Regions from separate parts of the Homo sapiens genome. Here all the other regions are linked to region 1. Evidence: fine-mapped expression QTL. A gene starts in region 1. Each other region holds a variant in brackets. All regions are shown on one strand. Distances are between the middles of the regions. Region 1 holds the start of PLXNC1 (plexin C1). Region 2 overlaps LOC124902986 (a long non-coding RNA gene). Region 3 overlaps PLXNC1 (plexin C1). Region 4 holds the start of PLXNC1-AS1 (PLXNC1 antisense RNA 1). Region 5 overlaps PLXNC1 (plexin C1).

Region 1 (6,176 bases):
CTGTCTTTCAGAACACACAGCTCTGAGCACACTGGGAGTTCTTGATAAATAGCAGCAAGAAATGCTGTGGAGGGACCCATTTTAATTATTTATTTTTCCAGTTCCAGATTTTTGGCAGCATGTGTTTATCCTTTGCTTGATTTCCAAGGGGCAGCTCTCTCGCAGAAGCTCCGCGACTTCCTCTGCCACTGCCCCTCCCCATCCCGGCACAAGCAGGAACACCTGATTGAGCCAAAACGTGGATTTTGAGTGCATTCAAGATGCTGGCTGGGTTTGGAAGGGAACTGAGTCTTCCAGGACCCAATAGGTAGAGAGACGCAGTCAAGAGAAATGTTTTGGCTCCACACATCGACACAGCTGTCAGATGGCAAAGCTTGGACTTTCACCCTCATTACCTGCTGTGGGCCTCTGAGCTGGCTTGTCATTAACCCCAGAGACTAAGTGTGTCTAAAGCTTGACACAAAGTAATATTTCGGGGGTACTTTCAAGTCTTTCAACAGAGAAGTAGGAAACGATAATTTTACCAAACTTAAACCGTTAGATTATAAAGATCTAATAAAGACAGGAATCAAATATTACATTATATGTGTACGGCAACAGCAAGTCATTTAGGAGGCAAATATGTGTTTTTACATATTTTTAAAAATTATACCAGTAACAAAATGAAGGCCTTAATGTGTGTGTCCCAGCACACAGCTTGACAGGCAAAGAAGCAGCAGCAAGTGACCGTTCTAAGAAGCCTTGCAAAAGACCTCCTGGTTTTTTTCTCCCTGGCTCATAGGGCTAATATTTGGTAAGATGTGCTTTGCAGAGAAAGAAGGGGGTGGGGGAAGCTGTCTTTCTATACACATATTAATATACCTGGGAGCCAACGTGCCCCTGTATCAACACATTTTCCAAGCAGTGACTTCTCCCCTTCCTCTCTGATTCATTTTGTACCAAAACAATGGCAACACCTGTAGCCGTTAATTTCTGCGCTTTGATTTTTGTCCAGTTATAAAGGAGGCTCCCAGCAGGCTCCCCTCTCAGGAGCCATATGTGGAGTTGATGTGCCAGCCGCCTTGGAAGGGAAACGGCCTCCGGAGAAGTGCACAATGGCTCCATAATCCCCATCAACTGGACCCTCTTGAACTGCCTCTTTATTTTCCAGTCAAAGAAATGCCAATCTCAAGATAAAAGCTGTGGCTGCCCTGGGAGCCCAGGGGAAACCTGTATCGCTTGCCTGGTTCAGCCCCAGGGTGGTGACTCTGAGTCCCGCCATCTAGTCTCGCAATCTGGAGCCCAGAAACTGCCTGTAGCACCCCCAACACTTTCCCTTGCACTCCCCTCTAGGATGAGGCTTTTACCACAAGGCCACCTCCCGCCCAGCCTCTCCCGGCGGCTGGCGACCACAGCGCACCCTGAGCAGAGCCACGGCACCGCCCCCTCGCACCGGCTCACGCCAGGGGTTCGGTTCCAGCGCAAGCCTCTGTTGCAGGCTGGCATTTCTCCACGCTGAGCGGGCTAGCAACTCTTCAGACCACAGCACTTGCGTTGCCGGTGGGGGGCGGAGACAGGGGGCCACAAAGGCTGGGGTGTGGCAGGGAGCCCTTTAGGTTCAATGGCTTCTCTGCCGAGGGCACTGTGTTGCTAACTGTTGACCAAGAGGGTCAGACCCACACGCCTGCTGGGACTACACGGAAGGGGCACAGAGAAGTCTGGAGAAGCGAATGGGAAAGAGGGGCTGCGCGAGGAGACTCAGCCCCAAACAAGCGTCCCCGTTTGGACAGGGAAGGATGGCAATGGGATGCAGCCACTAGAGTTTTGAGTCTAACTCCAACCCTCCCCGCCCCCCTTTTTACACTCTCCCTTTGGGGACCTCAGGCCGTGCTCCAGGTCTCGGGGACCGTCCGAGAGGAGCCTTCGGACGGCCGCCCGCGGTGTGAACCTGAGACCTGGTAAATGTCACCCGGCTGTACCCCCGCCCCGCCGCTCGCCCCCAGCTCGTTCTGCCTCGGCGGCGGCGGCGGCTCCCCGGCAGCAGCGCTCTCCGCGGCGCCCCGGGGGCAGGACTTACGCAGTGGCTCTCGGCCGTCTTGAAGTCCCAGCTGACCCTCTTGGCGCGCGCCTGGATCTCACTCATTCTGAAGAGGCAGAGCGCCGTGGTGGTGGGGGAGCGCCGCTCCTGGCCCTCTCCAGCGGCCGCGCTGAACACTCCCGCCCAGACGTCCAGGGCCTCCACTAGGCTGGAGGAGAGGAGCAGGCGGCGGCCGTCGGGGTGGCCGTGGCCGCAGTCGAGGGATGCCTGGCCCTGGAACAGCACCTCGGTGCTCTGCGCGATGCGCGCCATGCTGGGCCAGCCGGTGGCAGCGCCGCTCGTGTAGTTGTAGGGGTAGTAGGGGAAGTAGATGCTGCCGTTCCAGAGAAAGGCGTCCACGAAGTGCAGGCTGCCCGCGCCCTCGCACAGCTTGAGGCGCCCCAGCTCCTGCGTGGCCAGGCTGCGCCCCTCCGTGTCCTTGAGCGCGATGGCCGTGTCGTGGTCGGATGCCGCGGGGTTGCAGCGGCTCGCCGTCTCCGGCTCAGGCAGCACGTAGGTGGCGGCCACCGCCAGGTACCAGCGGTTGTTCCGGCCCGCGCGGTACACCACGCCGGCCGTCGAGCCCTGCGGGTGGCACGACACCACCTCGGTGCCGTTGCGCAGGGAGTTGCGGCTCAGGTTGCCCAGGGGCCGCACCTCGCAGGCGCCCCGGTCGAAGGTCCAGCCGGTGAGCAGCAGCCCCCCGAGGCCGGCCGCCCCCTCGCGGTAGGGCAGCAGCAGCTTGCTGAAGCTGCTCCCGGGCCGGGGCCGCGCGGGGGGCGCCAGCGAGACCGGCTCTGTGCAGTTGCCCGCTTGGTCCCGGTACAGGCGCGAGAGGCTGTGCTCCAGGCTGTAGTCCAGCTGGTCCAGGCAGCTGCCGCTCGCCACAAACACGCCGTCCTCCTGGCTCGCCGCGATGGCTCCGATGGCTTGCTCCGACCGCCACACGGGCTCGTCCGCGCCCCGGCCGGGAGCCGCCAGTGCCAGCAGATAGGCGAGCAGGGGCAGTGGCGCTGCGGGGCGCGGGGGGCGCGGCGGCGCCTTCCTCCGGGAGACCTCCATGGGGCTGGGGGGGCCGCCCCCGGGCAGGGCGCGCGGCGGCGACGGCGGCTCAGGCGCGCGGCAACGGAGACGCGGGCGGCGGCGGCGGCGGTTCCTGCGCGCGCTCGGGCTCCCGCGGCCGCCCCATCCCCGCAGCTCGCCCAGGAAGGAGAGCGGGGAGGGCGGCGCGCGGCAGGCTCGCTCCGGCAGCCTGTGCAGCGGCGGTGGCGGCAGCAAGCCCTGCGCGCTCCGGCACCGTTTCCTCCTCGCCCTCCTTCGCCGGAGAGTTCCTGTGTGCAGCGCTGGCGCTCGCGGGGAGGCGCGGAGGGGAAGGGAGGGGACGGGCGGAGAGGAGCGAGGCGGGCGGGGAGGGCTGGAGAGGTTGGGTGCGCTTGTGCGTTTCACTTTCCCATTGTGAAAGTGGGATGCAACTGGCCCCCTTCCTCATCCTCTCTTCCTCCTCCGCCCTCCGCCTCCTGCCCGCCCGCCCGCCCTCCCTCCACGCCCATCTCCCCTCCCCTCTTGATTCGGTGAGATAGGGAGGAGGGAGGTCTCGTAATTTGGGTTACTGTGTAGGTGGCCTCTTTCATCTATTCATAACAAAGCTCAGCCGCCCGCCGCGGCCGCCGCGGCCGCCACCATCGCCCCCTTGGCTCGCCTGGGGCTCCCGGGGCGCGCTAACGGCGCACGGAGCGGGCTCCCGCGCCCGTCCGCCCGCGGTGCTGCTCCAACGCCCGGTTTTGTTTACGACAGCAGCCGGGTCGGGGATACGCCAGGCGCGCGGAGCGAGGATCCAGGGTGCGAAGGGGTTGCAGCTGAGGCCCCGGGCTCGGGCCACAGGGCTGCTGCGAGAGCGGCTGACAGGTGTGGAGCGGCGAGAGGGAGGCCCCGGGGAGGCGCGCGGGAGACATGGCCGAGCCGGAGACTCCGGGGACCAAGGCGCCCCTGTGACAGGGTGTGGGTTTCCCCGGGTCGGATGAGTGAGGTGGCAGAAAGGCAGGCGCCACACTCTCGTTCTGGACAATCCCCAGGGCCGGAGCGCCCATATTTGCAAAGGTTCTCTAATCTCCCTTGGCAACAGAGTCCCAGGCTCTCAAGCCTAGCACTTGGAAAGTTCTGCTCACCATCTAACCTAATGAGCGGGGCTAACATTTACTGAGCACTTACTACGTGCCGGGTGCGCTTGTGAACTCACCACATGGGTTAAGACTCATAATTCTCATAACAGCCCTATTAATTAGTGACTGTTATTGTCATCCCTACTTAGTAGTCCAGGAGAATGGTTATAGAAAGGTTGTGGAACGTGCTGGCATTCTACTGCTGGTAGATATCAGAGCCGAGATTCGAATCCATATCTAGCCCCAGGGCCTCTTACATACCTGGCTCTAGTTAAGTGCCACCTGTGGCCATTGCCATAATCCCCCAGAGATCATTCTCTGTAGTGAGACTGAAAAGTTCCTCAAGTTAAATGCACCAACCAGCCCCCGCCCTGCTTTCTACTATTAGACCCAAGTCCCCGTATTTCCCTCGAGGCTCTCCATCTGTCTCATCATTACCCACTTTTATCCTTTGGACCCCCTGAGGTCTCACCACCTCACCCAGAGGGTGAATAACAGCTGGGTTGCCCCCACAGCCGCCAAGAATTTCTGAAGCACAGGGAATCATTGCCCACTGGGGAATAGGTTCATGATTTCTCGGAATGGGGCTTCCCAGAGGATGCACAAATGCCTCCCAGCTTCCCGGGGCAGCTGCGGGCACCATCAGCACCCTTACAGTCTGGCAGATGAGCCAGGGGGTGCATAGGAGTGGAGGGTGCTGAGGACCTCTATGGATCGTTGGGAAATGATCTCTGTTCCTTCCCAGGCTATTTCCAGACCCCAGGCCCCAGGGAGGGCAATTGGCTGCTATCCCCTTTCTTCCTTCCCTCCAAGTTCCCCAGCTCGAGATGCTGTTTTGGGAAGGGAAAGGAATGAGGTGGCTTTTGTCCCATGCTGAGTCCTGCCGAAGGTTGCAGGTTTCAAACTTCTCCAACAGTGCTTCAAGTTCTCCCCAGTGCTGAGGGATATGGCAGGAGTTCTGGAAGGCTTAAGGAAAGAAGGGTGAGGTGGAGGGAGAAGAAGAGAAGTGTGAGTTTCTGCTCTAGATGTGAAGTTCAAGGATCCTATCATTTCAGCAGTGGCTCTCATACACTAAAGTCAGAGTGGTCATCTTTTCATTCATAAGCCTTTCATTTGCAATTGGATAACATTATCTTTGCCTGGCAGGAGGCAGAAAATGCCTTCCCACGAGATATGAGGTTGCCCTTTGTGCTGTGATGATGGTGTTGGAGTGTCCATAAGGAGAGGGGAGGAAGAAGGGGAAAGGCCTAAAGTACCCAGTTGGTGTTAATCGGGACATCTCAGGCAAGACAAGTCAGATGTTTCACCTGCTCCAAAATATCTGGCCTTGCTCCCCCACTCCCTGCCCTCCTGGAATGCTTTCAGAATTTTTGCACCTCTGGAAGTGGGAAGATCAATATTTTAAAAACCTCATCCGAAGCTCAGAGACCCCCTCCACAGCATAGTAGGGGATTTATGCGCTGGTGTTTTGACAGTTTTCCCTGTGACTGATGCAGAACTCAGTGACCTTCACTGGCTCCGTGAACCAGCGGTGGCAGTGTCGCTATGTGCTGAGAAGCAACAGTTCAATTCCATTCCAGAGATAGTTTTACTTCACTGGTAACCAAGTCATTTCTCTAAGTCCCGTAGAGTTGGTACAATCAGTCACAGACCATCTTGGGAGCTATTTGGATTAAACATACTCTGTGGTGCGGCATTTTGATCACTACTCAGTTCATTGCTGCTTCATTTTGAAAAAGAAACAACATCTTAAAAATACTACCCACAAGAAGTATAAATGGCTTTGATGGCTACAGTTCCCTGCCATTCTACTGGGACCATAAGCCCCACTCTTAAGAGTGGGCTTCTTTTGCCTCCCATTTAATTGTATGCAGACTCCTACGGTGAAAGAAATCAGAATCTGTGCTAACTTTTTGGCATGAAAAACGTAGGCGACGAGGAAGCATATAAATGCATTCTTT
Region 2 (6,176 bases), 21 kb after region 1:
GCTACAGTAACCAAAACAGCATGGTACTGGTACCAAAACAGAGATATAGACCAATGGAACAGATTAGAGCCCCCAGAAATAATAGCACACATCTATAACCATCTGATCTTAGACAAACCTGACAAAAACAAGAAATGGGGAAAGGATTCCCTATTTAATAAATGGTGCTGGGAAAACTGACTAGCCATATGTAGAAAGCTGAAACTGGATCCCTTCCTTACATCTTATACAAAAATTAATTCAAGATGGATTAAAGACTTATATGTTAGACCTAAAACCATAAAAACCATAGAAGAAAACCTAGGCAATACCATTCAGGACATAGGCATGGGCAAGGACTTCATGAATAAAACACCAAAAGCAATGGCAACAAAAGCCAAATAGACAAATGGGATCTAATTAAACTAAAGAGCTTCTGCACAGCAAAAGAAACTACCATCAGAGTGAACAGGCAACCTACAGAATGGGAGAATATTTTTGCAATCTACCCATCTGACAAAGTGCTAATATCCAGAATCTACAAAGAACTTAAACAAATTTACAAGAAAAAATCCCATCAAACAACCCCATCAAAAATTGGGCAAAGGATATGAACAGACACTTCACAAAAGAAGACATTTATGCAGCCAACAGACACAAGAAAGAAATGCTCATCATCACTGGCCATCACAGAAATGCAAATCAAAACCACAATGAGATACCATCTCACAACAGTTAGAATGGTGACCATTAAAAAGTCAGGAAACAACAGGTGCTGGAGAGGATGTGGAGAAACAGGAATGCTTTTACACTGTTGGTGGGACTGTAAACTAGTTTAACCATTGTGGAAGACAGTGTGGCGATCCCTCAAGGATCTAGAACTAGAAATACCATTTGACCCAGCATCCCATTACTAGGCATATACCCAAAGGATTATAAATCATGCTGCTATAAAGACACATGCACACATATGTATATTGCGGCACTATTCACAATAGCAAAGACTTGGAACCAACCCAAATGTCCATCAATGATAGACTGGATTAAGAAAATGTGGGACATATACATCATGGAATATTATGCAGCCATAAAAAGGATGAGTTCATGGACATGGATGAAGCCATAAAAAAGGATGAGTTGTAGGGACATGGATGAAGCTGGAAACCATCATTCTCAGCAAACTATCACAAGGACAGAAAACCAAACATTGTATGTTCTCACTCATAGGTGGGAATTGAACAATGAGAACACTTGGACACAGGGTGGGGAACATCACACACCGGGGCCTGTCGTGGGGTTGGGGAGGGAGGAGGGATAGCATTAGGAGATATACCTAATGTAAATGACGAGTTAACGGGTGCAGCACACCAACATGGCACATGTATACATATGTAACAAACCTACATGTTGTGCACATGTACCCTAGAACTTAAAGTATAATTAAAAAAAAAAGATTTCTTATTTCCCAGATCCTCCCTCCTCTCTCTTTCCTACTCCTTAGCTTGCCCTCTCATCATTTCATCACTAGGCTATTTTAGGTGAGACTGGTGGTCCTGGTCCCAGGTTCATTGCCCACCTCCTCCAACCCAGCCTTTGCATTGCCCTTTCATTGTCTTCCGATATGGAAAGCTGATGGGATTACTTCCTGTTAAAAATCCTTCAATGACTCCCCATTGTTTCCCAATTGTTTTATACCATGGCTTCATTGGGCCCCACTCTTCTTGGCAATACCTTCCTACACCAAACAAGGGCACTGGCTGCCAGAGGTGACCAGCCTAGGAGCTCCCTCTGTCAGGTTCCACCCAGCAGTCCCAAGGGCTGAGAGGGCAGGGTAGTATCTCAACACTCTATGGAACACTTATTGGGAAGCCCTGACTTAGAGGATACAGCTTATATTTCTTAGCTTGATATATAAGGTCCCTGCCTGACCATTTTTGCAATATTGTGTCTTCCATTCCTTCATGTGCACATGTGACTGGGCTCTGGGCTGAGCTAGATGAAGAGTAGCTCCTTGGGGCCAGCTAATCTGAACTCTGGGGATCTATTGGCACAGGCTGATAAGCCTGCAGATGATTGTTGCTGTTTTGGTCTGTCTAAAGGAAGAGGTTGATGCTAGCCTTCTATGGAAAGACACAAAGGAAAGTAGATGAAATTAGTATGCTTACTATTCCTCAGACATTCCTTAATAGAGAGCAGGGGTAGTCAGCAGCTAGAAGGTATACGCTGACCAAAAGTTGATGACATTCAGGGCATTTATCTTGGGGTCCCATTCCATGAATGGAGCTAGACCCATTCACCTTCGGGTCTAGTGGCAGAGTGAAACACAGAGTCAGAGAGAAGGGCTTTCTTACTCTCCTTGCATCAAAGGGAGGATAGAGAGAATCAGGGAAGAAGCTACATTCTCAAAGATATTCCCCTGGGGACTCCCCAAAATGACTGGAGAGATTGAAGGAGGAAGAGGTTGAGTCCTAGAGTTATACAAGTTAGGGATAATCAGGCAGAAAAACTCAGGGGGTATTAGTTGTGACCCCATTGATACCCACTGGGGAGACCTGTGCAAAATAGTTTTCAGAAGCTGTATACATCGGTTGTGATGTGTTTAGCTATAAGGGGAAAAAACCCCTAATTACTTAGAACATAGGCAAGTAGAGGTTAATCTTTTCTTGCACAAGAAGGAGCCCAGTTGCTAGTACTGGTTGCTATTCAGTGTTACTATTAAAGAGCCCCTCCAGGCTTTTAATATCTTTCTCCTGTCACAAGATAACTGCCACAACTGTAAACATTGTATTTGTTTTCAAAACGAGGGGAAGGCTACTTTCTCCTAGCAAGACTCTGTCTTTTTTTTTTGCCCAAACAGAAATCCCTGAGCAGACTTCCCCCTTAGACGTCATTGACCAGAATGTGGTCACATGCCCACACTATACCAATGTCTGGTGAAGAGAAAAAGAATGACCATAATTGGCTCATGATTGGCTCATAAGCCCAAGTCTGGAGGAGGAACTTACCTTCCTTAAGATTATCCCAGATACACAACTAGGTTCTCTTAGCAGGGAAGAAATGAGTGTCCGGTACGTAAAGAATGCTTGTGTATTGTTACATCCTAAAAGAGTCACAGTTCTCTGATGCTGGAATTCTCCCCGTCCCTCTTGCCATTGCCTAAATCCAACCCATGCTTTGGGTTCCCACTCCAGCATCTTCTCTGACTCTCATTTTCATTCTCCAGAAATGACCAGCCCTTTCTGGGTGTCACCGACATACCTAGTCCATATGCCTACACTTGCTCTTGTTACACTCCATCGCGATATGTATTTGTCTAGTGTCCCTGTGACCTCAGAACTCCTTGAAGGAAGTTCATATTATATTCATCTTTGTCTCTAATATCTAGTATGATGCCTGGTACATAGTGTTCAGCATTTGTAGAAGAAATGTTGCGTAATAAAATCCAAATAGA[C/T]GTAAGAAATCCAATATAGAAAATCATCATGTTAGCACTGACATCTTCAACCATGAAGGACCACTGGGTATGTACCATAGACAGTGATTCAGTTCAGCCACACCTATTTATGGGGGATCTATTGTCTGCCAAGCACCAGGGGCAACACAAGAGAAGGAGAACACAGTTTCTGTGGGAAGACCGTATGCAGAGCAAAGATAACTAACAAACAAAAATAGCATCTGATAAGTGTCTCATTAGAGCTACAGGAGAGCGTGGCGGTGGGGAGACAGAGGACACTGGGACAGTGGTAGAATGGTAATTAAAATCCACAGGTAATTCCAAGCCTTAATTTAATCAACACTTTCAACCTCCACCGGTCCACAACTTCTTAGTGATGTAGGAAAATTGTCAGATTTGAATGTCATTTCCTCGGGGAGCCCTGCCTATCTGTTGGTGCACCTGTGACCCAGTAGTAAAAGAACCACATGGTAAACAGCCAAAGAGGAAACCAGGGAGAAAAGGGGACCTTGATAATTCACAGCTTAGATAGTCAGCTCTTGAATAGCTGAAAGCTGATGCAGTTTTAACCAGCGATTTGAAGATCAAACGATTCCATATTTTACAATTGTACTGCATTTGAGGTTTTTGATAAGATGTGTTATTGGAAAAGAGGTAACTAAAACTGTATGAAAGGCACAGTGAAATGCACTAAATGGATCATTTTCGAGCCCTTCACTGCATGGAAACTGTGCTTGCAGTGGGTCAATACTGAGAGTCTCCTAAGGCATACTTAACATGGCAGCGGGGGGCATGAACCCCTTTGACAGTGTGGTGAAATCTATGGACTTTCCTCAGAATGTTTTAAAATGCATAAAAATATAATAAATAGAATTACAAAAGCTGTAAACTATGTTGAAATACAGCTACAAAATAATTTTTAAAATATGGCATGGTAAAGTGTTATTTAATAACAGTTTAAATAACAAAAACTAGTAACATCTCTAATACTTAATCATTATCTGAAGTAACAATAAGTATAAATCAAGATAGCTGCAACAACTGTCATGCGATTTGAAAGATGTGTGATTTCTCTTGGTGACAAAAAGTCACAGGTGCTACTGATACTATTCTAGTTTGTTGCCTATATTTGTAATTGCAGGGAATGTTAAATTTCAGTTAGAGGTAAGAGAAAATAAAGATGTCATTTTATTTTGCCATCCAAGTTCACAGACCAGGTTAGAAACTGCTGTTATGAGGTCCCTCTACCACATGGCAACCATGTTGAGAACTAGGGCCCCTACGTGTTTTCTTGACATTGATGCACACAGCTCTGGGAGGTCATGTCCCACCTATTCAAGCAATTAAATCACAATTTATATCATGCATCTTTAAAAAAATGTGTTCTTATATAGATAGGTTCAACAACAAGAAGAGAGAAAGGGTCCTATCAGGCTGCTGGTTGGAAAAGACCTTTATTGAATTCATTGCCATGAACTCTCCTTAGCACTTAGTTCTCTAAGACTGGCATTATTGTGTTGTCTGCTGAGTTAGTAGCTTGCTGGATCCTTTACATCCTCTTGTGATGTTCTTGCCCCATAAGATGTGGGCAGTTCAGATATAGGAAATGGTTCAGGAAGAGGAAATTCAAACTCTCCGCCTAGAGAAGCTGTTTGCTCTTTGCATGAAAGTGCTCTTTGAAAATGGCTGAGGGATAAAGACAGGGCTCTCTGGAAGGGGAATTTTGTGCCCACTAAAATATAAATAAGGAAGTCATCTTTTTTTTTTTCTCACAAATGCAAACTTGAAATCAATTCACTGGGCCAGTTGCATAGGTATAAGAGGTACAGTTCCCTTTTCCTGTTTATTTTAGTACTTACCTAAATGAGAAGGGTGAAGGAGTTGTGGGAAGTGTCTTAACACTGCGTGGAAGGGCAGATCACTACTTTATTGTTGCGAAAATGATGTTCCTTTTTAACTTAGAAATTAGCGCATCAGGCCACAATTCTCCTTCAACAATCACCATTTCGCTGATTAAGTGTGTCTTCAAAGATTAGCTTTCATACCTGTAAATTAAAAGGAAAAAAGGTAAAATTCATTCGACAATAGAACAATCTACATCTAAACAGTAGGTCGTCATTAGTGAAAAAACCGGGGGATTTGGAAAAAACAAAACAGAACAATTCTAAGACCAAATTTATGAGGGCAACACATTATAAAATATGGAGCTATCACATCTTCATATTAAAAAGGCTTTTGACCACTTACATATTTATTTAAAAAAAAAAAAAAGTAAGTCTAAGAAAACACCTTCTGGGTAGCTGTCTCCTTGACTCTAGATCATACTTTTTCCCAATCACTTGCATTTGTATTTTGATTATAAGACAAGCAGAGCCTATATCCTATTCTATTACAGCTATTTGTGTGGTTTTTTTCCTTGACTTTGAATTTTTGGAGCTGGCATCTCCAGAGTCATGCCAGGCAATTAGCAGGTTCTTAATAAACCTTTGCTGAATCGAAGGGAATTCGGAGAAGTATTGCTGATGAGGGAGGATACAGAAAGGGATTTTTCTATAAAGCCTGACCAGCAGTGTTAAAAAAGTTTTCCACCAATAACATTAATAATGGATTTTTTAAAAGAAACAAGCTTTTACAATTTGCAAAGTACACGGAAGAAGTCTACTAAAGAGGCTCTCAATGAGCAGTGTAAAGGTCAGAAATAAACAAAATTAAGTCTGCCAGAAGTCTGAAAATTGTCACTGTGCTA
Region 3 (6,176 bases), 160 kb before region 1:
TTTTTTTTTGGCATTTTGAGTGAAATATAACTATCATTAATTCTCTCTTCATCTTTGAGATGCTTGGCCATAACAGGGTCCATACACATCTTCTGGTTTACTATATACAAAAACTGTAGTTGAAAAAAGATGACAATTTAAAAGTCAGCCTAAAGAATGTAAAGGTATCTATATACAAAAGGCTACCTTTTCTAAAATCTGTGTGCACATAATTAAAGAGCTTAATTTTTTTTTAATCGTGTGTTTAATTTTACATCAACCATATAGCATATATTTAGCAATATGACAGTCTACTGATTTTGGCTTTGTTAGAATAGAGAATAAGTGCAAATAATTAAATCCTATGGCTGTATTAACAAGGGGGCCATTGATTATAAAACTTGAACTCAGGTCCTTTTATAAACATTGTTGGTATTTAACTTTACTTCCCATTACTGTGGATCTAACCAAATAATTATGTGTTTTGTGTCCCTAAGTATGCTCTCATTTTTTTTGGTCTACACCCATTGGAAGCCTTTTTAATGTGACATCTTTTAGAGGAATTCTGCTGGAATAATTTCATGTTAACGAGGCTAAAGCTCAAGTCTCCCAAATTAAGTGGAATGTTCATTATCCCAAGGTGTTCATAGTCAAAAGTCCCAGTTGATAGTGAAGAAGGCCAGGACTGTAATTGAGCAGTCCTTAGCACCATTTAGCAAACTAGGTTTACTTACTACATAATATAGCTGCTTATTCACAGCATATACAGTGACACCTTATCTCTGAAAAATAATTTCCACGGAGCCACTTAGAATAAAAAAACTATTATAACTAGAAAATTGAAAAAAAAAAAAGACAGTCCACAGTTACATCAAAATGTTTATTTTTTGGATATAGACATTTAAAACATTCATCTCCAAGAACAGCTTCAATCAGGTATACAATAAGAAATAGACTTTAAATCCTAATACAGAAAAGGTAACAGAATTTTTTTGAATGCTGCTGTAGACACTAGTGTTAGAAAAAAAAGTTTATAAATGGTTTTGCACCAAAAAAATATGCAAAGAAACTTGAAAATAGAAATTGTTTGCCATTTGTTGCTCTGGTTGCTGTTTAATATAGACCCAGTGACTGATTGTCTTCAGCACACATCTAATTTGGCCATTTACTGCATTTGGCTAATGTGATCCAAAATGTGATCTAGATAGTGCTTTTCACTGGAGGATTGACAAACACGCTACATACATTAGTGAATCTTCATACCACCTCAGTGAGGTAGCTTAGAAATATTATACAGAAATTGAGGCACAAAGAGGTAAGTGACTTGCCCAAAGTTCCCAACAGCACAGTCCCTGGAAGAGGAGGTAACTCTCCACACAGGACTCATGTGCCAGAAAGCTGGACAGGGACACCCTCATGTAGCATTTAGTAAATACTTAGATAAAGCTGTAGCTGATCCTTTGAGTTTTCAGTACCCTAAAGTAGTAGGGGAAGTCTTTTGGGCAACTCTCCTACCCTTGGCTCTCAACTTTCCTACTGTTGTTCTCTTATGAACTCCTTCACCTCTTTGAAGACTGTAGCAGCCTTCAATGGGGACCAGACCTCTCACCTTTATTCTGATCTGTCATCTATTTGGTAGTTTTGTTTGTTTGAGGTGTGTCCGTTGGACAGACAATGGTCAAAAGCAACAGGATTGGGAAGGTGCCTATCAGGGTAGTAACTGCTTATTTTCTCTGATCAGTTTGTTGAGGTGTCACCTCTCTCATGCTTTTCCAGATAATACAGAAGCAAAAAGGAATTGCCTTTAAGACAAATTCATATTTAAATCCTAATGCTCCATACAGTGTTGGTAAATGATTTCAAGGAATATGTGATCAATGTTATTTGACTTGAAAAAATTTTCTTTCCTAGATGGGGGATTTGGAGCACCAAGGGTAAAAGGTGCCTGCCACAAGAAAAGCTCAAGAGTTGCCAATTATGCTGTTTACTTCTTCTGGTTTAATAGAAGGAAAACACAGTGGTATTAAAACTGGTCATGAGCAGCAAAAATTCAGGAATTAAAAAATCAGCACTAAAAAGACTACAGTATAACTGGATAGAGAATTCTTTAAAAAGAAAGGCATGAATAAAATGGGTATTTTAAATTCTTTCTCCTGCGAGGAATACTTTCAAAAAGTACATAGTAAGACTAAGATACCAAGTTGTATACTAATATTTTTCAGGCCTTGGGCCTCAAATATATATATTTATATATAATACTCCAGTGTGAACAGCAATTCGATAAAATGTAAAATGTATCTTTTTTTTTTTAAATCACACACAAGTATTCATAACCACAGGGTTCACCAGAAATCTAAAGCAAGGAGACACTCACTCATATAGAAATGGAGTTACTCTTCCACAGATCGTTCTGATCAAAGGTTTTGGAACAGAAATGAATTAATGATTTTTTTGTATAATATCCAACATGTCCACTATCAAATACATTTAGTATGAAAAAACAGATGAAGAAAAGGAACATACATTAGGACAAAGTATCTGGTTAAAATGCTGTTCATTTAAATAAAGCCCACTCTCCTTACTTTAGAGCTCCTTGGTGAAATGGAGGTGAGTTTGATGGAGTGCAGTTGATGACCACTGAAAAACACGAGCCCTTTCAACAATGTTGCAACACTGTTAGTTTTTGGTTTAAACACACACACACACTCACAAATGCTAAGTGTACACTACCAAATTCTGCGGTCAGCTTTTCCAAGAACTACTGGGGAAAGTTTCAATGCTGCAAATCCTCGAGGTTGCCCTAACACCCCCACCTTGTTTCCAAATGACTCATTTCACATTTTGTTTTGAGCACTGGCAGTATCCCTTTACAATGCAGAGGTGCAGTGTAGCACAAGTGCTACATAGCTGTAGTTTTCAAACAAAACCACTTATATCATTGTGCTTAAGTGGAGACTGTAGTTACAATACTGACATTCGCTTACTGGCCTTGTATTCTCTGTAAACAAGGAGGCTGTTTGCAACAACCACTTCAACTCTATTTACAGAAGGGTTCCCACGGTATACACACAGGCACAAGGGTTGGTATGCTTTCTAAAAGCTGTGCATGTGCCTTGGTCTCTTAAAAAGACAGTGCCCAAAGTGGAACCTATGTGCAAACAACAAATTAACGACACAGAGTAGCTCAAGCAGCCATTTTGCTCCCAAGTCGTCTGAAGAACTTTGCCAGATTAAGCCAGGCCCCAGAGTGCTTACATCCACTTGCATTTCTTCTTTTCATCAAATAAGACTTTTACATGCAAGAGTTGTTTCTGAGCTTCTTCCAGCCCTCGTTCTCTTTCTAGTTTATTTAGAATCTGTTGACAATTAGAACAGTTATTTTAGATATTGTGGTTTTAGCGTTACAATTCTGTTTTTTGCATACCTGATGCT[G/A]TGAGTGGTAAAATCTGTATGAAACAGATGCCAACATTTTCTTCCATCATTTACATACTCACTTTGCAAGTTGTTTTGCTAAGTCCTTATCACAGGATCAACAATACCTTGGCTTAAAATAGAAGCTCGCAAGAAATACCAACTATTTGCTTACAAATATGGGGCCAGGCTTCCTAGGCCCTGCTTTATGCATTATGTCACAGCCATTCCAAGCACAGCAAGCATTCCTGGGCAGCCAACATGCAGGCAAGTATTTCTCCTTAAATGCAGCAGGCAGGGACATCCTGGTCAGAGACAGATCCTTCCCTTCCCTCCCATCTGGGCAGTGTAGTCCCTCCTCGTGCTTCCCTTCTCTCCCCTGACCCCTGGAACGAGGGATGCTTATCATGTTTAAGAACTCATTGCCTCTACCCTACCTTAGAGCTTCACTTCATCTTCAAGTAGCAAATGGAATTGGTGAGCTATTCTCACCATTGACATGGATAGCCTGTCCCAGCATGATTGGGGGGGAATCAGGGAAGGGGGAGTTAACATTTGTTTGGAAACAAAGCATCTGATGAATGTGTCTGTTTGAATTTCCAAAGAAAAAAACCCAGATTAAGGAGAATTAATCATAAAGGAGAATGGTTTATTGAAATAGTCGCTTAAGTTAGAAATATGTCATAATTTCATATAACGATTGAATACAGAATCTAGGCAATTTAACAAGCTTAGCTTTCATTTTTAGCAAATTACAATCAAGCATAAGCTGACCCCATTTAATAGGGCCACTACTTACTCATCAAAGTTAACTTGAGTCAGGGTGGCTGTAGGCCCCATGAACTCAAATGTAAATTCAGGCTGGTCCAAATGTGGGCAGCATGATAAAACTGTAAGGGGGGCAGCCATGTACAGGGTCTGGCTCAGTGCCAGGATCCCCCATCTCAGACAGGCTTCCTGGCTTCCCTTTCTGGCCTTTTGGGATGCCAGAGCTGTTCTGAAACTGACAGAATGCTATAACCACATCCTTGTGCCTGATTCAAAGGTTAAAAACAATGTTATTTAAAATCTTACCTCATCAAAATATTTTACGATGTATTTGTAAATTTCTGTCAAGGCCACTTCTTCATTAAATTCATTTTCATGTTTCTAAAAGAAAGACTTGTTGAGAGATTCTGAAATGACGTAAAGTAACCAAATATAAGCTTATTTCTGCTTTCTAATGATACCTTAGATTCCTGAGTTAAAAATTCTTCCATTTCTGAGGATGACAATGGAGGCAAATCCCTGATTGCTTTGTAATAAGATTTTACTTCTTCTTTGTAGGTTGGGATATCCTTGGCATAGAGAAGCTTATTAGTTGGTGCTTCCTGGGGAAAAAAAAAAAAAAAAAGCAACCATCACCAAAAGAGTAAAAAAAAAAAAAAAAAAAGATGGAGGAATTTATAATATTCCAATGTAGCTGAACCCCCACCACCAACCAGTTTTACCTCTTGCTAACAAGGCTTCATGCAGTAGGCCTTAAATGTTGTTGACTGAATGACTGACTGCTATCTAGATAGTTCTGGTGAGTCACTGTTATTTTCAGGCAGATTAAATGCTAATATATTCTGCCTTCCTCTCATAAAAGAACTAAAATTATTATTTTTGCATGATTTTGAGTTACTGTAACAATGGAACTTATTTCAATCATAGTTCATTACTAATGGTTGTAAAAAGCCTGAATTAAAACATTTGCTCTCATCCTCACCCACCAGTGAATTTGGCATTTACAAAAGACTTGATTGTAGGTCTGATTGAGCCCTTTATATAACCATGAAACTGGTAAGTAATTGGCAGAGGCAGATTTTCCAGCTTGTCCCTTTTATTTCATTAGATTATAGACATCATCCAGTTTCTTCAGGGAAGCACATGGTCATTAGTATTGGTGGCTCTGATGTGTGATTTTGCAGAGGTTCTCTGGCAATTTGAATGATTCTACGTAATTATAACAGTGATATTTAAAAATTAAATATGATTTTATTTTTAAAAATCATTATTTTTCACAAAACTTTAAAAAATTCTACTCAGGGAAGATAGGTAAGTTAATGATAGGGCTAATGTCCCAGCCCATGAGGCTGAATCAATGGCTTGATGAATCATTCTGAAGGATGCCTAGAGACTGAGATATTATTGAGATTTTCTCATTTGTCAAATTTAAGTGGAACCCAGAAATCATGCTATCATTCATTCATTCAATAAACATTATTAAGCACTGGAGCAGGCATTGAGAGTACAATGATAAAGACTAGTGGCTGCCCTTGAGAAGCTTACAATCTAGTTGCAAAGACAGATTTATGAAGTGCTTACTATGATACAAATAATTAGCAGCAGTAGTTGACAGAAAGAGTTGGACAAATCAGAAATCATAATTCTGCTACTTTGTGTGGTTTCAGGCAAGACTTGTAACCTCCCAGAACATCAATTTTCTCATCTATAAAATGAGGGTAATAATAACTACCTTATTTGGTACTTGTGAGGATTAAGTGAAGTGTGTCAAGAACATAATTCATAAACAACTGTTTTTAGTGTGAACAAACATTTAAGTGCCTTTCAGTGTGCTGCATGCTAAGATGAACTTTATTAGTCAAATGAAGAAAGTGCTGTAGGAAATATATTGGGGAAAGTTCACAAAGTAGGCATATGTAGACTGATCTGAGTCTCCTACAGTTTCTGGTCCTCATTAGGAAATCATATTTGTCGAATGAATAAAATGTTTATGATGAATGAATGGGTAGGATTTTACT
Region 4 (6,176 bases), 25 kb before region 1:
AATATTTTCTTGGTTCTTTTGAGTTTTAAACAATATCATTGTATTACCTTAAAAATAAATATATAACATTTAAATTTAAAAATCCTTGAGGGTGAGTGAGTCAAATTGTTTTTCTTTTTGCTAGATTATGCAAACAATGCTCTCCATAATCCTGAGGACAGGACAAGAGGAAGTTTTAGTTTTCACCACAAAGGTCCCAAATGTGCTACACAGAGGGGTGAGGGATTTCTGCTTCCGTGGCCCCTGGAGTCTCATCTCTCTCAGATGACTAAAGGACAGGTCAGTGTTCATATCATCTCTCACCTAGCCCGAGCCCCAGCCCACAGGCACTAATGGAACACTTGGACTTTCTAATTGCAAACTTCAGGAGAATATCAACACACAGACAAAAGCCAGCAAGACTGGAGCAAGGGAAACGTTCCTTCCTCAGCTCAGTTTAGGTGGGCAGCCTCGGAAAAAGAACATGATCAGTGAAGCAATGCAGGAAGTAACAATGAGTCACAAAAACCCAAAACGGGTTGAATTTTGCATAAGAGAAATCTCATCCAATTCACACACACAATCCTTGGGCACGATGTGGATTTTTATCTTCCAGGATACGACCTTAATATAGATCTAATCTGAAGTCAATCTGAACCTTCTCCATGTGTATGCTTGTATACTCCTTTATCTTTCAAGTCTCCAACATCACCTCCTCTGAGAAGCCTTCCCTGATCACTTCTCCGCTGAACACCTCTGTCACTCTCTACCCATCACTGTATTTTCTTCATAGCACTATCTGAAGTGTCTTTATCGCTGATTAATCCATTTACTTGTTTTCTGTCTTTTTCTTCCCACCAGCAGAGCAAGGGCATTGTCTGTTTTGTTCACCTTTGTATATTCAGCACCCAGAACAGTGCCTGGCACATACAAGGTGCCCAGTAGATATTTATTAAATGAAAAACGACGCTATTAGCATTCAAGATTTTATAGGGCTCTTCAGCTTTTTCCAGCTGAAGCCTGTGTAGAAAACAAATTTTCTCTGATGGAGAATTTCAGTTCGTGTCAACATATTGTTTCTGTTGATGTCTTCCTGAAGCCTCATGGTAGACTATTAACGAGCCTTGGGATTTTTGTTGCATATAAAACTCCCAACTACACTGCTGAAATTAACTGAGTGGAGATTTCAACACCATACAATTGTAAGACAGGTTCAAGATCACCCACAGGAAGGATATCATGGTGAGGAAAATGAGGGGGGAGAAAAATTAAACAAAAAACTATTTTTTTTTCTTTACGATTACCATGAGATGGAAAAGCCACGGGTGTTCAAAAAGCTATAATATTTTATGCCAAATTTAATTTCCTATGCCTCACTCTGTGGGGCTAACCAGTTGAAGGGCAAACAAGCCAACCCTTTCATTTATTATTATTTTTTTCCATAAGCAGTTTCTGAGAAATGCTGGGAAGGAGACTTAAACCACACATACACACACACAAGCTCACACACACATATGCACGTGCATGCCTGCATACATATACACACACGTGCATGCCTGTGCATGCGTGCACACACACACACATGCACACACAGGAGAAAGCAAGGTAAGTATTTAATGTGCCTCAGTAGTTAGGAGTAACAAAGATGAAATATAAAGATCAAGGCAAATTTCTCTTTTGTTTCCAATCTACTTATTGCAGTGTAGGTAGTAAGAGAAGCATACAGTCTGAACCACAGGTTCTAGATTTGTGGATTATATGGGACTAAAAGTTTCAAACTGGGGAGTCCCTGCAAACTCATAAATTGCAATTAATGAGGTGGGGAGAACTTGAAGCAGGCTTCACATGACATCCTAAACAGCCAACCAATGAACCCACTTCCAAGTTTTGACACTTCCTCCTGTTTTAACTTTTTGGTCTGTTAGCTCAGTCATCCCCACCACCACCACCACTTCCGGTCCCAGGTCCTGTTCTAGGTTCCCCAAGTTCTCCTATTCCTTATTTGAACATCTTCTGGGTATATAGTACAGCTTGCCTTTACAAAAGATTTTTTTCTCTGACATTCATTCAAAAACTTCAATAACCAGAGTCAAGGCAGACTCTTTAGGCAGTACAGAGTTTTTGCTTCTGTTTGAATTCAGACAGAACTTTTTGGAACCGGTTTAATTTTGCTGTGATTTGAATAAACGAAATCCCTGAGTGGCGCCGTGTGCAGTGGCTCATGCCTGTAATCCCAGCTCTTTGGAAGGCCGAGGTGGGAGGATCTCTTGAGCCTAGGAGTTTGAGACCAGCCTGGGCAACATGGCAAAACCCTGTCCATACAAAAAAATTAGCCAGGTGTGGGGGCACAGGTCTGTAGTCCCAGCTACTCAAGAGGCTGAGGTGGGAGGATCGCTTAAGCCTGGGAGACAGAGGTTGTAGTGAGCCGAGACTGCACCACTGCACTCCAGCCTGGGCAACAGAGCCAGACCTTGGCTCAAAAAAGAAAAAAAAATAAACAAAAGAAAGCCATTAAGTGGGAGTAGAGGGCCACATAGGTAACCAGTCTGAGCCCAAGCACATAGGAAATACCTCAAGACTGGATATGGGGACAGGATAGAGCTATGTGATATAGCTTCCTGTATCCTGAACCCTACTGCAGTCCCTGGGAGGTCGGGGAGACACTAGTCTTTACTGCTGACACCATTCAAAACAGCAACTTGAATACAGAATTCCTACCTTTCCTACAAAGGAGCCCACTGGGGTAAAGCTGGGGCCCCAAAGGAGATTCAGAGACCCCCGTGGACTACGCGCAGCTCAGAGAGGAGCGGGCTCTGCACTCAGCTGGGTTGCCAGGAAGCCATCCCCAAATAGGAACAAACTAAACCACAGGGTTCTCGGCCCCTTCTTATGAAACCTCAAACATCTGCATCTTGGTATCAACCCTTATACCCCAGTATTAGAAAGAAATATAACAAAAACCAGCTCTCAAACTCTACTAAGCTCTGTAAGAGTTAATGCAGTTTAGTTGGGGGATAGAAGCTCGGGCTCTGGGACAGAT[T/G]ATTTTGGTTCAGAGCACCTTGAAAAAGATACCTAACCTCTCGAGGCCTCAGGTTTTTTCATTTATAAAGTGGGGATGGTGAGAGTATTGACTGGTAAGGATTAAACCAGTTAACCCGTGCAGATGCTGGTTCTAATGCCCAGCACACAGGAAGAGCTCAGAAATGTTAGCGATTATTCTTCCTTGCCCATTGCCTTCTTATCTTTTATGCTTACACGAAGGTTAATGGGCATGCATAAAGTTACAAATTTCAAATTTCATGCATATTCTGTTATTACTTACTTTACCACCTGGAAAAGCTCAAAATATGCAATTCTGCCTTTGAAATAAGGACAATTTTCTATGGGCAACAGAGTCAGCTCAAAGGAATCCAAACCACATGATAGGCTGTACTATAATCTGGAGAAAGACTCGGTGTGTGTTTACAGAAATGCATACATTGTGCAACACGTGCAGTGTGAATTCCCCAAAGCTGAGTTCAGTGTGACCATACTTTTCAGCTGATCTCAGTGGAGATGCTGACGACTGAAAAAAACCCGGCATGCAATCATGTTCCGAAAAGAAGCAGGATGGGGAAATAACTGCGGGGGTGACTAGACATAACTCACCTCACGACCATGGGACGGTACACCGATAAAATAAAAGAGCAGATTAGATGCTCTCAAAGGACCCTTTGAGCTCTAAATTCCTTCTATTTCCCCAAAATCTTATAAAGGGACTTAGGTCTATAGGCAAGAGAAGGAGGACAGTAAAGGTACTGGCATACTGTAGCCTTTAGTTTCTTCACAGATTATCAGTGAAATCTTACCTTTGGAGGTAATGCCGTCTTCCTTGGAAAATGCATGTCTTTAAAGATACTTTAAAAGTGATCCAGTATCTTAGCTTAAGTTCAAAATAATGTACCCAAATAATAGAATATGATATAGTTATTTAAAAATACTTTTTACAAAGGGTTTGCAATAACATTTTAATGTAAGCATTTTCCCTCACTAACTGAAGAAAAGGATGCAAAACCTGACCTCAACTACATAAATAGAGAATCCAAAATGCTGACAGCAGTTGCTTCTGCATGACATGATTAGGGGTAATTTTTTCTTTGTTGTCCTCTCACCCCCGACGACTCTGCAACTTTTTACATGAGCATATATTACCTTTACAATAAGGAAAAATTATTTAAATAACATGAGGCTTAAAATTGCACCAAATTATATTAAAACTCACAGGATTTGCAGAGATTTAAGAAGTCAGGTTTTTACTGGTGGTGGTAAAAAACAGCAGTTGGGCCCCAATTGCTGTTTCCTGACTCTCATTCAACAAGGTATACACAACAGTGCCTGGCACATGTCAAAATGCCGTCAACTCATGATCACTCAGAAACTGATGAGTCAGGCTGTGGCTGATCCAAGCCCTCTTTCTTCTCCTCCTCCTACTGTCTGCGTTGGGTTGAGTTTTGTTTTTTGCCGCTCATTAGTTCCCCCACGCTGTGGCTTAAGGAGCCAAGCTTGTGTCTATCAGTGTTCATCCTTTCTAACAGTTCTGGTGACAAGCCTTGGCAAGGGAGAAGCTGAAAGCTTCTGAATAAAGGGATTTGAGGATTATCGGTAGTTTCCAAATCATCCACACGATCCTGGGTCTTCAGGATTCTGGGTAAATTCAGGGGCTACATCCAAGAATCTGTACACAGGATACAGGGGAGAGGCTTGGGCATTACTGAGCTGCCCTAGGGAGCCTGGTGGGGCAAGTCAGCTCAAGTTCATCCCTCACACCCTTCTCCTGAGTGAGAGAACTTCTCTCTTATTGGGGGCTTGGGGGGTGGGTGTTAATTCCCAAGAAGTTACCACGCCAGTGAGGTATTTCCTCAGTCAGATGGTCCGCCTTATTCTCAAGCTGGGACTCTTTCCTGAGCCTCTAGGAAGGCTGACTCACCCCAGGAGCATGTGTCCCCAGCCACGGCATGGAACCCTATCTGCATGTCTCCCATGTGCCCCCGGAATCCTCAGAGAGTAGTACCAATGTGTGCGGCAGAGGTTGCAAAGTCAGTGCAGCATAGGGGATCTTAGTGCAGTCTCTGAAGTCATTCCAGGTTCAAATCCCTGCTCTGCCCCTGTGTGACCTTGAACAACAATCATCCCATTTCTCTGGGCCTCGATTCCCTCATCTGTAAAATGGGAATAGTAGGCCTGCCCCATTGTGTCATGGAGAGGACTGAATTCGGTAGAAGATATAGAGTCCCTTGGCATCTAGGAAGCACTGTGTAAATGTTAGCAGTCACAAAACAAACAACAAAAAGCTGCCTTTGTTATTCAAACCTTGAAAAAAACAACGAGGCCACACAGGTGGCTTCTGAATGGGTACCCCATACAGATCCTGAGGAGAGCGAGACTTCGGTCGGCTGCGGCCTCCTCAGCAGCATGAAGCTGCAGCTTGGTCCACTCCCTGGTTGCCACAACATCGCTAAAAGCTGGCCAGCGGCATGCAGGCTGCTGGGTGAACACACAGGACAGGCAAAACCAGGCCATCCCATGGGGAACTATTTATAGACGAGTGTTCCTTCACCTCCAATTCACCATGTAGCGGTTTGGTTGGCTCGGCTTTGGGGAAACAGTGTTCTTGTCAAAACACTCATCAAAAACATCCCAAATCTGAAGAGATAATTGGTGAGGAGGCCCAGAAAGGCTTGATGGAAACTCCCGCCAGGCAAATGGGTCCAATAAGCCTGACCAGGTTGGTGGAGCTACAGACGTCACCCAGTGACTTGTGTAGAATGATGGATGGGTATTTACCCTTCCCCAGGAAATAAAGCTAACACAACAGGAAAGATGATCAATGTATATTTTAAAAGAATGTGTATACAAACAAACTCCCTCCCATATGTTACTGGGTTTCCTCCAAAGAAAACAGATTAAATCAAATGCCTACCAGGCACTCAGCACTGTATTAGGCTGTGGGAATTCATGGCCCCCTTCTCATGAGGCTTAAAATCAAGTTGGGAAGGCAAGACAGACACCAGTGAAAAGGTGAGGTCTCCAGGCAAGACATTTGGAATGAGCCACAAGAATGACATAGATCATGAGTATTTCAGGAAATGAGAGGAGAGCAAGGTCACTCCAGGCCTAGATGTCATCAAAGAGGAGGTGGGGTTTGAGCTGAGCCACAG
Region 5 (6,176 bases), 98 kb before region 1:
AAAGGTGGGAACACTGGTGAGTTGAGTTGTTGTTCCTTATTTTTTTTTGAGACAGGGTCTTACTGTGTTGCCCAGACTTCTAGAGGCTCAAGTGATCCTCCTGCTTTGGCTTCCCAAAGTGCTGGCATTATAGGCTTGAGTTGTCTCTCCCAGCCTAGTTGTTATTCCTGACTTAAAACTTACTATTGGCTGGGCGCGGTAGCTCACACCTGTAATGCCAGCACTTTGGGAGGCCGAGGCAGGCAGATCACTTGAGGCAAGGAGTTTGGGACCAGCCAGCCCAACACAGTGAAACTCCGTCTCTACTAAAAATAGAAAAAACTAGCCAGGTGTGGTGGTGCGCACCTGTAATCCCAGCTACTTGGGTGACTGAGGCATGAGAATTGCTTAAAACTGGGAAGCGGAGGTTGCTGTAAGCCAAGATCGTGCCACTGTACTCCTGCCTGGGTAACAAAGTGAGACTCTGTCTAAAAAAACAAATAAAACTTATTATTAACCCCATTTATCATACAGATGGACTAAGAGAGGCTCAGGAAACTCAAGTGATTTACCTAAGGCCACAGAGCTATTAACTGGTGCCAGTGGGACATGAACACATTTTTGTTGTTGCCTTCCAGTCTGAAGTTCTTTTGCATTGTCTTTTATCCAATTATTTATGATGATAGATCAAGAAGAATTTATATAGGCTGTACAGAGCCTCATACGGCATGAATACTATAAAGGGTGACTTCTAATGTGTTTCCCTTCTCAGTGGTCTCACATCTTTATTATGGGATATAAATATAGCAGTGATCCGTCCCCCAAACATATCTGGGAAAAGATTAATCGCAGAAAGTATGACTTCATGGTGAAGGAAGCAGCCCATGACCCAGAGATTATCTGGTCTCCATCTGATTCTAATGCTACCCAGAGTGTGCTGAAGAGGCCCTTGTTTGTTTTGGGTTTCTGCTAAGACATGTCACCTCCGCATTTGAGAAAAGAGTGACAGCTCATTTGTCAATGGGTCTAGAGATTTTGCTTGCCGATCCTACTGTATAAATGTGTGGCTAGAACAAAAGCTATCAAGACTCATTAGGATTATAGACAATGGTGTGTCCAACGCTTTGACGTTCGAACAGGCACAGGGATGGATTCAGCCAGCTATTTTGGAGCTATTTTGCTTGGGCTCGCAGTACCAGCTTTGTTTATCTTCTATTTAAAGTGAGGATCTGAAGATCCATGAAAGATTCCATTCTGGCCTCTGGTTTAGCCAAGGAATTATCACAAAAATCAGGTAAAGACAGCAGGTGGGACTGCCAGGTCACTTACCCGAACTTTCTTAGAAGAGTTGGCAATGGTGCTTGCAGTCTTGATGCCTTTAATTTTGCAAAGGATGGTGGTAAGATCTTGATTTCTAGTAATATTTTCAAAACTGCAATTTAATTGCCCATTTTCCCCATGGAAGAGAGTAATTTCAATGTCTTTTTTGGAAATGTTGAAGTTGTCATTTTCTTTCTGTAAAGAACAAAATGAAGATGGAGAAATCAGAGCACATGTAGAAACTCACGAGCATAAACACACCTTTCCAGTCAAGGGGTCGGGGTGACATCCCACCCAGAAAGAAAAGAAACATACTTGAATTTTCACTTCCAGTTCTGTGTCCACCTCGGATTCCACCCGATACCCCGTGAATCTGGGGTCCTCCCGATACTGCAGGGTTCCACAATCCAAGTAGGTGTCTTGTACTCTCAGCTTCACAGTGACATTCGTGCGCACTTTTGAACTCTTTAAACTGGGGGCTAAAAACCCGCAGTAAGTCGCCACACAATATTCAGAGACCTGGACAAAAAGAAAAGAATGTTTTAGTAACTTTGTTAACGAATCCCAGCTGTGATCTCTAAGAGCTAAGTGACCTGAGCAACTTAACTTCTTGGTGCTTCTGTTTTCTCATGTGTAATATGGAGACAGCAAAACTACCTCCCTCACAGGATTGACTTCACCCTACATTACATTAAATGAGGGCTACGTTAACTGAGATTATACATGCTTAGATCAGGGCCCGGCACACAGTAAGCACTCAAAACATGCTAGTTAATATTATGATTAATATCATGAGTGACAATGAAAGCAGCTGGAAGGTTATGCCATGGGAAAAGAGACTAGGCTGAAAGCAGTAGGCTAGGGAAAGGGGAAGATTCTGACCCAAGGGGCTTAGGTGTCCTTGGGGTCAGCCTGTCTGAGCCCTGGGAAACCACGAGAAAAGAAAAGTGTCCAACTCTCAGCAAGGGCCAGCTCCTGAAGCGCTTGTTGCAGCTGAATCACCCTTTGTTGGGGGAACCTCCTGCAGGGCCTTAGCAGAAGTCACTAGACACAAGGAGGACAAGGGTTTTCAGGCATAACAGAAAACAGGAGAAAACAAAAGTAAAAGGAACAATGCATCTCCCATGAAATGAAGAGCATGAAAACTGAAAACAATGCAAAAAAGGTGGCCTGATTTACAGGATTAAAAAAAAACAACAACACATAAATAGGCTGGGCGTAGTGGCTCACGCCTGTAATCCCAGCGCTGTGGGAAACGGAGGGAGGAGGGTTACGTGAGCCCGGGAGTTGGAGATCAGCCTGGGTAACACAGTGAGACCCTGTCTCTCTCTATATATATAAAAAATAAAATTTAAAAAGTTAGTAAATACATAACATAAATATATTGTCCTGTTTAGGTGTACAGAAGGACAGGCAGAGGAGGCTGGTGGGTTAGGGGAGGATGGCAAACATTCTACAGAAAAGCAATTATAACTCATAAAAAGAAATTTATCAGGTGGGAAAAACTATTTTTCCCCCACCCCCGCCACCCCCTGATACTAGAGCATAAAAAAGACAATAGGAAGAGGCAATTGGTGGGAAAATATGATGTAAAGAGCTGAGATTTGGACAAGCACAACCTTCCTTTCCCTTCACATCTTTCCAAACTATAGCCCTGAATCTCCTGCTCACATTTCTGTCCTCAGGATGAAAACCACTGTCTCTACTGCCTCAGCAGCCTTAACTCCTAGCAGGCTGGCTTTTTACTGAAGATGCCTTCTAGAAGGATTGCAGGTGAGAGGATCACCCAACCCTATTATCCTCAAGACTCTACAGTTCCATACTCGTGACAAACTCGCGCCATGCGATTTACTCTTTTTCACTGGTTTCTGAGCACCTTCTCGGCCACCTTCACGGCCCATCCTACTGTCTGTCATTCCTTAAAATGAAGCTTTGCCACCAGTCCTAGGTGCTCTTTTCTTCCTCCTCTGTGCTCTCACTCCCATGATGTCACCCCCACTCTCCCTTCAA[C/T]GATACTGCTATAAAGACAAGCTGGTCATCTCTAGCTTCACGATGCCCCAGCACTTGAGACCTGCTCTGCTAACCACAGCCCAAAGGGAGCTACTGTCAGCCCAGAGAGACTGTGGACGTCTCAGACACACCTGCACTGGCATGAGCATCCTCACTGGGCTCCCAGCCTTTCTTCAGTTCCTGCCTCTCCAAACTCAGCTGTGCACCATTGCCAAAATAATAACCGCCCTGCAGGAGGTTCCCCAACAAAGAGTGATTCAGCGGCAACAAGCACTTCAGGAGCTGGCCCCTGCTGGGGGTTGGACACTCTCTTCTTTTCTCGTGGTTTCCCAGGACTCAAGACAGGACACCGAAGCCTTTTGGGTCAGAATCCTCCCCTTTCCCTAGTCTACTGCTTTCTGCATAGTCTCTTTTCCCATTGGTAACCTTCTGACTGCTTTCATTGTCACTAATTGTCTCGGTCCAGTGTGAGTCCAGTGTACCTAGACCTATGTCACTTCCTGCTCAGAGATCTTCAGTGGCTCCCTGCTGCCTACAGAATTAAGGGCAAAGTTTTCAGTCTGACGCTGCTTTTTGTGGCCCCAGCTCAGTTTTACAGCTATCGCTCTTGGTCATTCCAGACCCACCCTCTAGGTTCCCACTAAGCAGGATTGAGTGATGTTCCCAGCACGGGCCTGCGAGGACTCTGTCCTCTGTACCTGAACTCACCTCCCTGCTTCCACCCACCCCACTCCATACTGCAGGCGTACTTAATCCCATGCATGTTTAATTTCTCTTTAATGTGAAAAGAAATGGTGTCTTCTTGGACTCACAGGGTTTCTGAACAGTTAGGGAACCAGAGGACCTAGAACCTGATGATACTCTGTGCTGTCAACTTTTTTAATTTTTATTTTATAGAGATGGGGGTCTCACTATGTTGCCTAGGCTGGTCTCGAACTCCTGGCCTCAAGCAGTCTTCCCGCCTTGGCCTCCCAAAGTGCTGGGATTATAATCGTGAGCCACCACACCCAGCCTCAACTTTCAATCCCAATGTAGATTTGCTGCCTGCCTCCATGAAGGCAATATGACTATCTCACTTATCTTTTGTCCCTGCACCCAGCAAAATGTTTTGCCTGCAGTAGGTGCTCAAAAAATTCAACTTGATTTGGGAACAGCAAGTAGGAGGGAGAGCAAGTCCGTGACAAACTCAGGTAATGCCTCTGCTCAGAGGGTCAAACTATACGAGCCATTCAACTGGAGGTGTTCACACCATGGAGATGAGGCCTGGAGTCAGATACAGTGTGAGGCTTGGAAGTGGCTCTGAACTGTGTCAGCAGGTGAATGTGTGCACCACAAGGCTGTAAGGACGGCCTATCAGGCGGCCCCCGGAATTTGGGTCTGAACCCACACTGCTCCTGAGGAGGGAGTGTGTCAGCCTTGGCAGGAAGTGGTCAGGCAGGGCCCCAGAGAGGCAGCCACCTCACATATCTCATCAAGGAGAGGGAAAAAGGGGAAGAAAGAATGGGGAAGGATATTTAGAAGTGTGTGCAAGTACACTTGGAGGCCTGACTTGTATGTGAAATCCCTCATCTCCCCTCTTGGCATCAGAAGCTTCCATCTAGAGCAGCCGTGTCCAGCCTTTTGAATGTGAGGACTTTTTTGCTTATCTGTGGTGGTGGATATCACGGAAATTATGCACAAACCATTTTTTAGCTCATTAGCTATCGTTAGTGTTGGTGTATCTTATGTGTGGCCCAAGACAATTCTTCTTCCAATGTGGCCACAGGAAGCCAAAAGGTTGACACCCCTGCTCTAGAGGATCCCCATCTGGAGGCACCAGTGGGAGAATCGGGCAAAGGTGGAAACCAGACCCCTCCTACCATTTCTCCTGTGGGGAGACGAAAGGTAAGAGAAGGTGACATCAGATGGTAGGGAACAAATTGGGTCGAAGAGAAGGAGAAGCACATGACAAGATTTCTGGGACCTTGGCAAGTCATCTAACCTCTGTGAACCCAACTCTCTCTGTGCAATGGGAACAATACCACCTACTCTTCACAGAAATGCAATTCTTTATATCACACCTTAACCATTCACGGAGCATTTTCACACATATTCATAAGCATTGCCTCATTAGGGTGACTTGCCACAAATCACATAAAAAGAAAATGTCAGGTCTTATCGTACCAAGTTCATTTCTCTTTCCTCATTGCTGCAACTAGAAATACTCAGCTACAAGGATAAGGTCTTATTATTTCCATTCTAGCATGGATAGAATATATGATAGCATAGGTAAAAGTTTATAACACCAAAGTCACAGAAACAAAAAATACCCCCAACATAGCATAGTGTGATGAAAATAGAACCATCCTTGAAAACAACTATTATTACAAAGCAGCTGGAGACTTACATTTATGTTTCCTTTTAATTCATGTGAAATGATTAAGTTGTCAATTACATCAAAATTTCTGCCCATCATGGTTATATTTTGACCACCACTGCAAGGAATAAAAGCAACAATAAGGGTTTCATAGCTAACACACAGGCATTTTGCATTTATGAACAAAGCTATCAATTTATTCATGTTTAATATTAAACCCAATTATGTTTGAGAGCAAATTAATGAATTTTAATTTCAAATACAGGACAATTTTGGGAATCTTTTCAGGATACCAGCCACAAATTCATGGGTTTCAAGATGCATAAATATAAAAATTCAGGTCAGATCCTATTTTAATTCTAGGAAAATGCCCAGATTCTTTGATGGAATTTGAATTTTGTTTGTGTCATATCGCCACATATAATCAGATCAGGAGCTGTACCTTGAAAAGGTTTCACTAAACAGAATTTTGTTTGATTACTGTTTAATCTATATAAAGAGACTTCAATCT

The links. PIP is the estimated chance that this variant, and not a neighbour inherited with it, causes the effect. A credible set is the group of variants that fine-mapping cannot tell apart.
Region 2: its variant is the best candidate, but not a certain one, in a credible set for the expression of PLXNC1 in whole blood (TOPMed, PIP 0.79).
Region 3: its variant is the best candidate, but not a certain one, in a credible set for the expression of PLXNC1 in cerebellum (GTEx, PIP 0.79).
Region 4: its variant is the best candidate, but not a certain one, in a credible set for the expression of PLXNC1 in whole blood (TOPMed, PIP 0.50).
Region 5: its variant is the best candidate, but not a certain one, in a credible set for the expression of PLXNC1 in whole blood (TOPMed, PIP 0.86).

Annotation. Positions count from the first base shown.
Region 1 is chr12:94,145,914-94,152,089 of GRCh38, reverse strand. It overlaps PLXNC1 (plexin C1), which reads right to left and starts at 3,513. Exons shown (of 31, transcript NM_005761.3): 1 at 2,057-3,513. The coding sequence starts at 3,118. RefSeq lists enhancers at 987-1,046, 2,387-2,486 and silencers at 1,247-1,406, 1,887-2,026, 2,687-2,926, 3,057-3,286, 3,357-3,606 and 1 more.
Region 2 is chr12:94,125,163-94,131,338 of GRCh38, reverse strand. It overlaps LOC124902986 (a long non-coding RNA gene), which reads right to left. Exons shown (of 2, transcript XR_007063409.1): 2 at 4,869-5,475. Among named protein-coding and RNA genes, the nearest start is that of PLXNC1, 20 kb to the left of the region's middle. The variant C/T (reference allele first, on the strand shown) is at 3,431.
Region 3 is chr12:94,302,340-94,308,515 of GRCh38, reverse strand. It overlaps PLXNC1 (plexin C1), which reads right to left. Exons shown (of 31, transcript NM_005761.3): 29 at 4,620-4,760; 30 at 4,465-4,539; 31 at 841-3,335. The coding sequence ends at 3,231. It overlaps CEP83 (centrosomal protein 83), which reads left to right. Exons shown (of 17, transcript NM_016122.3): 17 at 1-818. Among named protein-coding and RNA genes, the nearest start is that of PLXNC1-AS1, 130 kb to the right of the region's middle. RefSeq lists a silencer at 2,589-2,688 and an enhancer at 3,303-4,182. The variant G/A (reference allele first, on the strand shown) is at 3,412.
Region 4 is chr12:94,170,484-94,176,659 of GRCh38, reverse strand. The region is part of intron 2 of PLXNC1 (plexin C1); the gene reads right to left. It overlaps PLXNC1-AS1 (PLXNC1 antisense RNA 1), which reads left to right and starts at 197. Exons shown (of 2, transcript XR_007063411.1): 1 at 197-279. RefSeq lists an enhancer at 4,940-5,449. The variant T/G (reference allele first, on the strand shown) is at 3,020.
Region 5 is chr12:94,243,545-94,249,720 of GRCh38, reverse strand. PLXNC1 (plexin C1) reads right to left here. Exons shown (of 31, transcript NM_005761.3): 12 at 5,696-5,783; 13 at 1,615-1,818; 14 at 1,309-1,494. Among named protein-coding and RNA genes, the nearest start is that of PLXNC1-AS1, 70 kb to the right of the region's middle. RefSeq lists a silencer at 842-1,042. The variant C/T (reference allele first, on the strand shown) is at 3,310.